2 linked regions of the Homo sapiens genome follow. The protein of the gene in region 1 purifies or fractionates together with the protein of each later gene. This does not show direct contact. Each region holds a gene or a part of one and is shown on either strand. Other genes may lie near its edges.

Region 1 (4,349 bases):
AATTGGCATTCTGTGTGATACCAAGGAGACCATTTGGATTTTGGCTTCTACCAAAGAGAATGGAGAATTGGTTGACCTAAATGGAACCAGTCCCTTTAAGTAAGGGGAGGAAAGGGGGTGCTGGAAGATGGCCCTCTTCCCACCACCTAGATCATAGCTTGAACTGAAGCCAAGGACAGAGTGCTGCCCCCTTCGGCATTTACTGATGTGCCCTCTTTAAATCATGATGTTATCTAACCCAAACCCAGACCCAGGACCTAGTCACAGCTCCAACCTACACTTCCTATTAATCTTAAAACAAAGCAAAACAAAACAAAAAGATATCAGCATTGTAGCCTCCAATCTGAGCCCATTTCCCTTCTCTGGCTACCATACCTCCTTCTCCTATATGATACCATTCACTACTTTGTTCAATTATCCAGTCTAGACCTGCATCTTGAGGCCACACCCAGCCTTCTCACTCCCCACACCCCTCTTTCCTCTCTCACTGCTCCTTCCTGGTCTCTTCTCATCTGGCCCCACCTCTAAGGAGTCCTCCTGCCTTCTGGGTTGCCCTGGAAAACAGACTATCCCCCCTCCTAGTGAAGGGAGTGGGTAGGGGTTTCAGCCCCACCCTCAGGAAGATGCGTCTTCCCTGTCCTCTGCTCTGTGGTACTTCCTCTCTGGCTGATTTAGCAAACAGCACCTAGACCTGGGGCCAGGCCTTTGGCAGTGGGACAGATCCAGGGATAGGCTACACCACCCTGCCCTGACCCTGGGATTGGCATCAGCTTCCAACCAGTTCCTGCCAAAGCTTGTAAGTAAGTTTCCTGGGAGCGGCCGTGGTTGTGGTGGTGGTGGGACAGTGTGCAGCCATGAAAGAAGGTGCAAAGGAATCTCCAAAGAAAGCCTGACCAGCGTAAAAAGTTGGGAGGCTTTGTCCTTGTCACTTGTCCACTAAACTCCTCCCCTCCCTGTTATTCCTGGTTGACCCTGGGCATCTCTGGGGACAGTAGGCAGGTGATTGGGAAAGTTAATGGGATTGAGGGGCTGAGGGCCTGGCAGGGGGCAAAAAGACTGGCCTTTCAAGGGGTGCAGCATTGGTAGGAACTCTGTTTGGTTCTGGGCTTTAGGGTCTCCTAAGGGGAGGAGACTGAAAAGGTCTGGAAATGCTGCTGCTGCTGTGGTCACTGTATATTTTGCAATTGGGTCTGTGGACAGGAAGGGGCCGCATGACCCAGTTAGGAAACTAGTCTTTGTACTCAACCAGATCCCTTTAAGTTGTCAGTCTGCAGCGATGGGGGCAGTATATTTCAGGGGGACCTCTGATGCTGCTGACCCTGGAGATAGACTAGAGTTCTCAGCCTAGGTGTGTCCATGGCGTCAGGAAACCCTTGGTCCTCTACTCTCATGCGTGTGTCCGCCCTCACTCTCCAGGTCCTCCCGACGGCCATGAACACTACATCTTCTGCAGCACCCCCCTCACTAGGTGTAGAGTTCATCTCTCTGCTGGCTATCATCCTGCTGTCAGTGGCGCTGGCTGTGGGGCTTCCCGGCAACAGCTTTGTGGTGTGGAGTATCCTGAAAAGGATGCAGAAGCGCTCTGTCACTGCCCTGATGGTGCTGAACCTGGCCCTGGCCGACCTGGCCGTATTGCTCACTGCTCCCTTTTTCCTTCACTTCCTGGCCCAAGGCACCTGGAGTTTTGGACTGGCTGGTTGCCGCCTGTGTCACTATGTCTGCGGAGTCAGCATGTACGCCAGCGTCCTGCTTATCACGGCCATGAGTCTAGACCGCTCACTGGCGGTGGCCCGCCCCTTTGTGTCCCAGAAGCTACGCACCAAGGCGATGGCCCGGCGGGTGCTGGCAGGCATCTGGGTGTTGTCCTTTCTGCTGGCCACACCCGTCCTCGCGTACCGCACAGTAGTGCCCTGGAAAACGAACATGAGCCTGTGCTTCCCGCGGTACCCCAGCGAAGGGCACCGGGCCTTCCATCTAATCTTCGAGGCTGTCACGGGCTTCCTGCTGCCCTTCCTGGCTGTGGTGGCCAGCTACTCGGACATAGGGCGTCGGCTACAGGCCCGGCGCTTCCGCCGCAGCCGCCGCACCGGCCGCCTGGTGGTGCTCATCATCCTGACCTTCGCCGCCTTCTGGCTGCCCTACCACGTGGTGAACCTGGCTGAGGCGGGCCGCGCGCTGGCCGGCCAGGCCGCCGGGTTAGGGCTCGTGGGGAAGCGGCTGAGCCTGGCCCGCAACGTGCTCATCGCACTCGCCTTCCTGAGCAGCAGCGTGAACCCCGTGCTGTACGCGTGCGCCGGCGGCGGCCTGCTGCGCTCGGCGGGCGTGGGCTTCGTCGCCAAGCTGCTGGAGGGCACGGGCTCCGAGGCGTCCAGCACGCGCCGCGGGGGCAGCCTGGGCCAGACCGCTAGGAGCGGCCCCGCCGCTCTGGAGCCCGGCCCTTCCGAGAGCCTCACTGCCTCCAGCCCTCTCAAGTTAAACGAACTGAACTAGGCCTGGTGGAAGGAGGCGCACTTTCCTCCTGGCAGAATGCTAGCTCTGAGCCAGTTCAGTACCTGGAGGAGGAGCAGGGGCGTGGAGGGCGTGGAGGGCGTGGGAGCGTGGGAGGCGGGAGTGGAGTGGAAGAAGAGGGAGAGGTGGAGCAAAGTGAGGGCCGAGTGAGAGCGTGCTCCAGCCTGGCTCCCACAGGCAGCTTTAACCATTAAAACTGAAGTCTGAAATTTGGTCAACCTTGTGAGTGGGGTACATGTGCTGTGGGTATCGGGGTGCTCGTGGGCGCCCTGGTGGGGCCCCTCTCGGTAGTTGAGAGTCACGTCCTTTAGTTCCCCATGATTTACAATTTTGGAAGGGACACAAAGAAACATAGACTTCCCCCATCCCAGATGATTCCGAGTACATAGTCTGCAGATAATACTTAGCAAAACGCAGTCTACAGACTCCTAAAGCAGCTTGTCTAGGAAGACCACCCATGTGGGCTTATCACTCCAGGTTCTGTGACCCGGGACCTTCTGAGAAAACAGCACTGCTGTGAAATATCTTCCTTGAAGCCTGTGATAAGTCTCCTTGTTAGAATGACTCCAACTTCCTGCCAATAATCTTTGTCCTCTCCATAGGAGATGTTCTAGGGGATGCCTTCCTTCCCTCCATTTCACAAAGAGGCCAGACTTGAGGACTAAGTCATTAGATCTTATCCCTTAGAATTTTGCATATCAGCATCTGCTAACCTCCACAACACACCCTGGCACAGGGTGGGGCTGAGGGCCCCAGGAAACAAAGATTCCCAAAAGTGAGAGGGATGAGTCATTATTTCCTAGAGATGACTGTTGTTTTAGAGAACCTTGGTCCAACTCTGTTCTGACAAGGTTTTAGGAAGATGGCAACAACAGTGGCAGCAGTGTACTTTTTGGATCTTTCTCATAAAAAAACAAAAGAGCAAGTAAGAGAGGGAAACCAAATATCCACATGCAACATCCGCAACAAATCTAGTATGTCAAGGTTTGACATACTCCCATGGACCCCAAAGTATGAGCCAGTGAGAATGAGTCATCAATATCTCAAGACCCATATACCAGCATCTGTGCAGAAGGATGCAGAAGGAAGCAAAGGGATGTTGGATGGACCTAAGAAGAGGAGATCCCCAAGCTGTCTACAGATCCTTACTGGAAGGTATGGTGCACCAATTTGAGAACAGCAGCTGAAACTGGGAGGGACCTAACGGAGTATTTCCCAGTCCTCTCGCCCATTCTGTATGGTGAGCACATAATAGGTACTTATTTAGTGTTTGTCGAATTAATAAAGTTCAAATGACATTTCCCTGGAGATTCTTCCGGTATTTTTGAGTAGGGGGCAGGAAAGGGCAAATTTTTGTTTTGAGTCATGTGGCTAAATTCTTTATGCTTCCAAGGTGTACAAAATACTATAATCAAGTTGGCAGAGAGGCTGAGGGAGTTCTCTTCCTGAGCTTGTGAAAAAAATCACTCCCTTTCAAAATGCTTAGTCTCACATGCATGCATGTGTGCAGGCATGTGCACACACATTCACACACACACTCGCACTAAAATTGGCCTGGGAAGAAGAAGAATTCCCACTGAAGGGCAATGAGAAGGTGATCCCCAGCTATATCAGCAGCTTCAGACATCAATGGGCTCCAGACACCCCAGAGTCTCTTTATTGAGGTTCTTAGAAGGCGAGTGCAATCTCAGCCTAGGGTAGCTGAAGGAGGTCCAGTTCGTGTCAAGTCTGTGTTCAGGAAGTAGGTGCAGAGCTGCCCTTTGCCTTTCACCTTGATGACACCCCGGCTGTAGCAGGTGTAGCCCAGGGACTGTAGGGCCCATGCTGTCTCCTCAGTCACC
Region 2 (4,420 bases), on another chromosome or scaffold:
AATGCATTCTTCTGGAATACCTTCTGAAGGACCTGCCTGAGATTCTTTTACAGTTAACTTTTTTATAAGTAGGAGTATACTCTAAAATAATGATTAAAAGTATAGTCTAGTAAATAAATGAACCAGTAACATAGTCATCTATTTTTACTATCAAGTACTATGTAATGTACATAATTGTATGTGCTATACTTTTACAACTGGCAGCTCAGTAGGTTTGTTTACACCAGCATTGCCACAAACACATGAGTAATGTGTTATGCTACAATGTCACTAGATGGTAGGAATTTTTCAGCACACACACACAAGTATATATATTATATATTATATTATATATTATATATATATGTATATATATATATATATATATAGAGAGAGAGAGAGAGAGAGAGAGAGAGAGAGATGGAGTCTTGCTCTGTCGCCCAGGCTGGGGTGCAATGACACAATCTCGGCTCACTGCAACCTGACTCCCAGGTTCAAGTGATTCTCCTGCCTCAGCCTCCTGAGTAGCTGGGACTACAGGTGCCCACCACCATGCCCAGCTAATTTTTGTATTTTTAGTAGAGACGGGGTTTCACCATGTTGGCCAGATTGGTCCCAAACTCCTGACCTCAAGTGATCCACCCCACTCAGCCTCTCAAAGTGCTGGGATTACAGGCGTGAGCCACCGTGCCTGGCCAACACCATTATAATCTTATGGGACCACTGTCATACATGTGGTTCATCATTGGCCAAAGCATCTGTATTTATATATGTATGTTTCAAATTATATATATATATATATATATATATATATATATATATATGATAGCTATACATGAACATACACACACACATATATAGACATATATAGCACATAAAATTGGCACATATTAAGCATTTTGTAAATATCAACCATTACAATTGTTACTACTTTTCTCAGCAAGGCTATGAATGCTGTTCCAGCCTGTCAAAATCACACCTGTTTAATGTGTTTTACCCAGCACGAAGTCATGTCTAGTTGAGTGGCTTAAAAATTGTGATCAAATAGCTGGTTAGTTAAAAAGTTATTTCACTGTGTAAAATACATCCCTTAAAATGCACTGTTATTTATCTCTTAGTTGTAGAAATTGGTTTCATTTTCCACTATGTTTAATTGTGACTGGATCATTATAGACCCTTTTTTTGTAGTTGTTGAGGTTTAAAGATTTAAGTTTGTTATGGATGCAAGCTTTTCAGTTGACCAATGATTATTAGCCAATTTCTGATAAAAGAAAAGGAAACCGATTGCCCCAGGGCTGCTGTTTTCATTTCCTCATTGGAAGAAGAAGCATAGTATAGAAGAAAGGCAAACACAACACATTCAACCTCTGCCACCATGGGGAACTGGGCTGTGAATGAGGGGCTCTCCATTTTTGTCATTGTAAGTACCAACAAGAGATAAGTTATAAATTCTCTGACTTCTCGGGGTTATCTTGGAACTAAAATAGACCAAAGCTTTTTTGTTCATTTGAGGAATTGTGTTGAAACTGATTTACCATGTGAACCTATATCTATCTGTAAACAGACTGAGTCCATTCTTCCAAATTCCTTAATGGAAAGAACATATCTGGGGGCTCACTTCTAGCTTACTTCTGAATTCCTAGGAGGAATAAATTAGCCAGCATTTCGCAGAAGGAGTAGAAAATATTTCATGCTAATGATCTCTGATTCTGAGTTGTTTAGTAATGTTTACTCAGACGCACATGTCTATGTGTTTATACTACTTTAAAAATGACAAATTGAAATTTTATACCATTTTCTAAATAAAAAATATAAGATTGACTCATGTATGGGAAGTAGGCCTTTATTTCAGTAATTACACTAAATATAATAAAACTTCTCAAATTTATTTTCAAAAACAAGTACCTTCTTTTTTCAGAGATCTAAACTTGAGTTATTTATAAGATTTATAAAAATTCAAAAGAACAGAATTGAAATAAGTCATCTAGATTCATAAATATGTAGTATGTATATTTATATATAATTGTATATATATATAAATCAATATAGTCTGGAGAAACTATGTAAGTAAAGATATAGCTAATTTACAAGTGGACAGAATGATTTCTGTACTTTTTAAAACAAAGAAAATCAACTGTTCTCTTAAAATGGTGTTATCAGCAAAGCAATAATGGACAAATTGGGTAGATAGAAATACGATTTTTAAATAGCCTTTCTAAATAACCAATAGAAGCATTACACAGATGTTAAAAAGTACAATTATGAATGGAATATGAATGGAGCTTTTGTAAAAATTTATCATGAAAAATAATGAGTCTTTGAGTTTTAAATATAGAAAGCAATTAGTGGCACAAATAAAAACAACAAATATTTTGTTATAAAAAATGTTTACGCCAAACCAACATTCTACTGCAACAGAGAATTCTTCCGAGTATTCGAAGCTGTAAACTTAACTTCTTATCACCATTTTTAAGGGCAAATAATTTCTATAGAAAGTAAGTTCAAATTAAACTTTTAGCTCTCGCCACAATTTTTCCCAGGAAATGACCTCCTTCTAAATTATATACTCATGCACTTGAAAGTGAAAACACAGCTTGGAAAGTCAGAGTAAAGAAAGAATGACAAGATCAGGAAATTGGGAAGTTGCTTTAGCACTTTTTTCTTTGTAAAGAGAGAATATTATCAAGTGTCTAGAGCATATAATAGCTTCAAAGCATAGTTGAGAAAAGATCACTATGGAGCTGAAGGTAGAGAACTGGGTAGTGTGACCACTTGATCCAGTCAGTGCTTAGGATAAAATGAACTGTCATGATCTAGAAAGCTGTTTTTGTTGTAAATCCCAAGCCCCTCACTATGCTCAATATTCTCTCCTTGAAGCATTAAGTAAAACTAATCAAGGAAAATGGAAGGCTTGGCATTTTAGCTGATGAGAATTCACTAGCTGGATTACTGTGTGGTAGAGGGAGGTGATTAGCACCTGTGAGAACAGAACGCAGTGTCATACTGGTGGAGGGAAAGCAATAGTAATATGTTCCCTTCCTTTCTCATTTTAAGTGGAGTGGCCTGCTATCAGCTACCTATCCAAGGTTAAGCAAAAGAGAGGGGAAAAAAAGGGAGTGGGGTAATGTAAGACTGATAATTTGGTATACTGGCCAAATCATAAAACAATCATGGGGAACAACACAGGGTGGAGAGGTTTTAATTATAGACAAGTGTAGTGACACTGTTGAGGAAAGAGCTGGCTCTAAGCTGGTTATATCCAGCTTTGTCACTACCTTTGTCAAAGTTGGACTTGGGGAAGTCCTGACCCTTATCTGACTCCAGTCTTGTGTGGAATCTACTGTGGAAATGCGGAAACTTCATGCAATTATTTCTGTTTGTGCAGCTGGTTTGGCTGGGGTTGAACGTCTTCCTCTTTGTCTGGTATTACCGGGTTTATGATATTCCACCTAAGTTCTTTTACACAAGAAAACTTCTTGGGGTAAGTATAAATTCCATCCCATGCAATATTGGCTGGTTCACATTTCTCATCAGACATTCTTGTTCATCTTCCTGTTAGCATTTTAAATACATATTCTGACCAACCCAAACAGTACCATTAGCCTCACTCCCTCCATTGCAACTTCCTGGGCAACAGTCACTTAAAGCCTTCCAGTCTGGGACCAACAAAAGTGGGGCAGAGGGCCCCAGTGGCATCCTTCCCCAACCAAGAACCATGTGCCATTGTTTAGCTTAAAGGAGAAATCTAATACTCACTCTGAAATGGAAGGGCAGGTTGGAGCAATCCATCCAGGAGTGACACATGTGGGACAAGTGGGACTTTCCATATTTTCTAAGTCACCTAATTCCTAGTACTTTTTTGCATGAAGAGCTCTGCTCCTAATCACATGTTATGAAATGATCTTCAGAAAATAAATCTCTCTCTACATATAAAGACTCGAGGAACTTGCTCAAGGGCCACATCTGTTGACTAGGACAGTAGAGTGAAGGCCCTTCAGTTTCCTTGGGTCCTTTAGTATTCTGAGTTTCCTTGAACTGTCAGGCCTCTTGCCTCCAGAAGACATCTGTTACATCATGCTGAAACTATGAATTAATTGCTTAATATTAATTATTATAAGTATTATAAATCATAAATAAATAATTTTAGCATATAATTATGCTAGATCATTATAATTGTTGTTAGCTTATTCACATTGATGCTTTCTCCCGCCAAAATATGCAACTTCTTTAGACATTACAAATATAATAATTATAATGCCAAAGCATTATACCATACCAATTTAAGATACTGTTAAGATCAATTTAAGTGCTAAGAAAATATTTAAAATCTTTAAAAGTCTTGATACTTAACTCTAGTTAATGATATGCACCTTAAGTGTTAAAGAGAAAGTGAACTGTTGTCTGTAACTTACTTTGAAATGCATCAAAAATTAGATGAGTT

The links.
Region 2: the proteins of LTB4R (region 1) and CYBB purify together in Homo sapiens (affinity purification with western blotting, with the first as the bait; one study listed by BioGRID). This does not show direct contact.

The regions. Positions count from the first base shown.
Region 1 is NC_000014.9:24,314,221-24,318,569, forward strand, and holds the end of LTB4R (leukotriene B4 receptor 1), read left to right. Parts: exon of another isoform or gene 1-800; intron 801-1,416; 5' UTR 1,417-1,431; coding exon 1,432-2,490; 3' UTR 2,491-3,816; downstream 3,817-4,349. Other genes in the region: ADCY4 (adenylate cyclase type 4), read right to left, coding at 4,196-4,348. UniProt on the Homo sapiens protein: Receptor for extracellular ATP > UTP and ADP. The activity of this receptor is mediated by G proteins which activate a phosphatidylinositol-calcium second messenger system.
Region 2 is NC_000023.11:37,778,724-37,783,143, forward strand, and holds the start of CYBB (NADPH oxidase 2), read left to right. Parts: upstream 1-1,335; 5' UTR 1,336-1,354; coding exon 1,355-1,399; intron 1,400-3,364; coding exon 3,365-3,460; intron 3,461-4,420. UniProt on the Homo sapiens protein: Catalytic subunit of the phagocyte NADPH oxidase complex that mediates the transfer of electrons from cytosolic NADPH to O2 to produce the superoxide anion (O2(-)).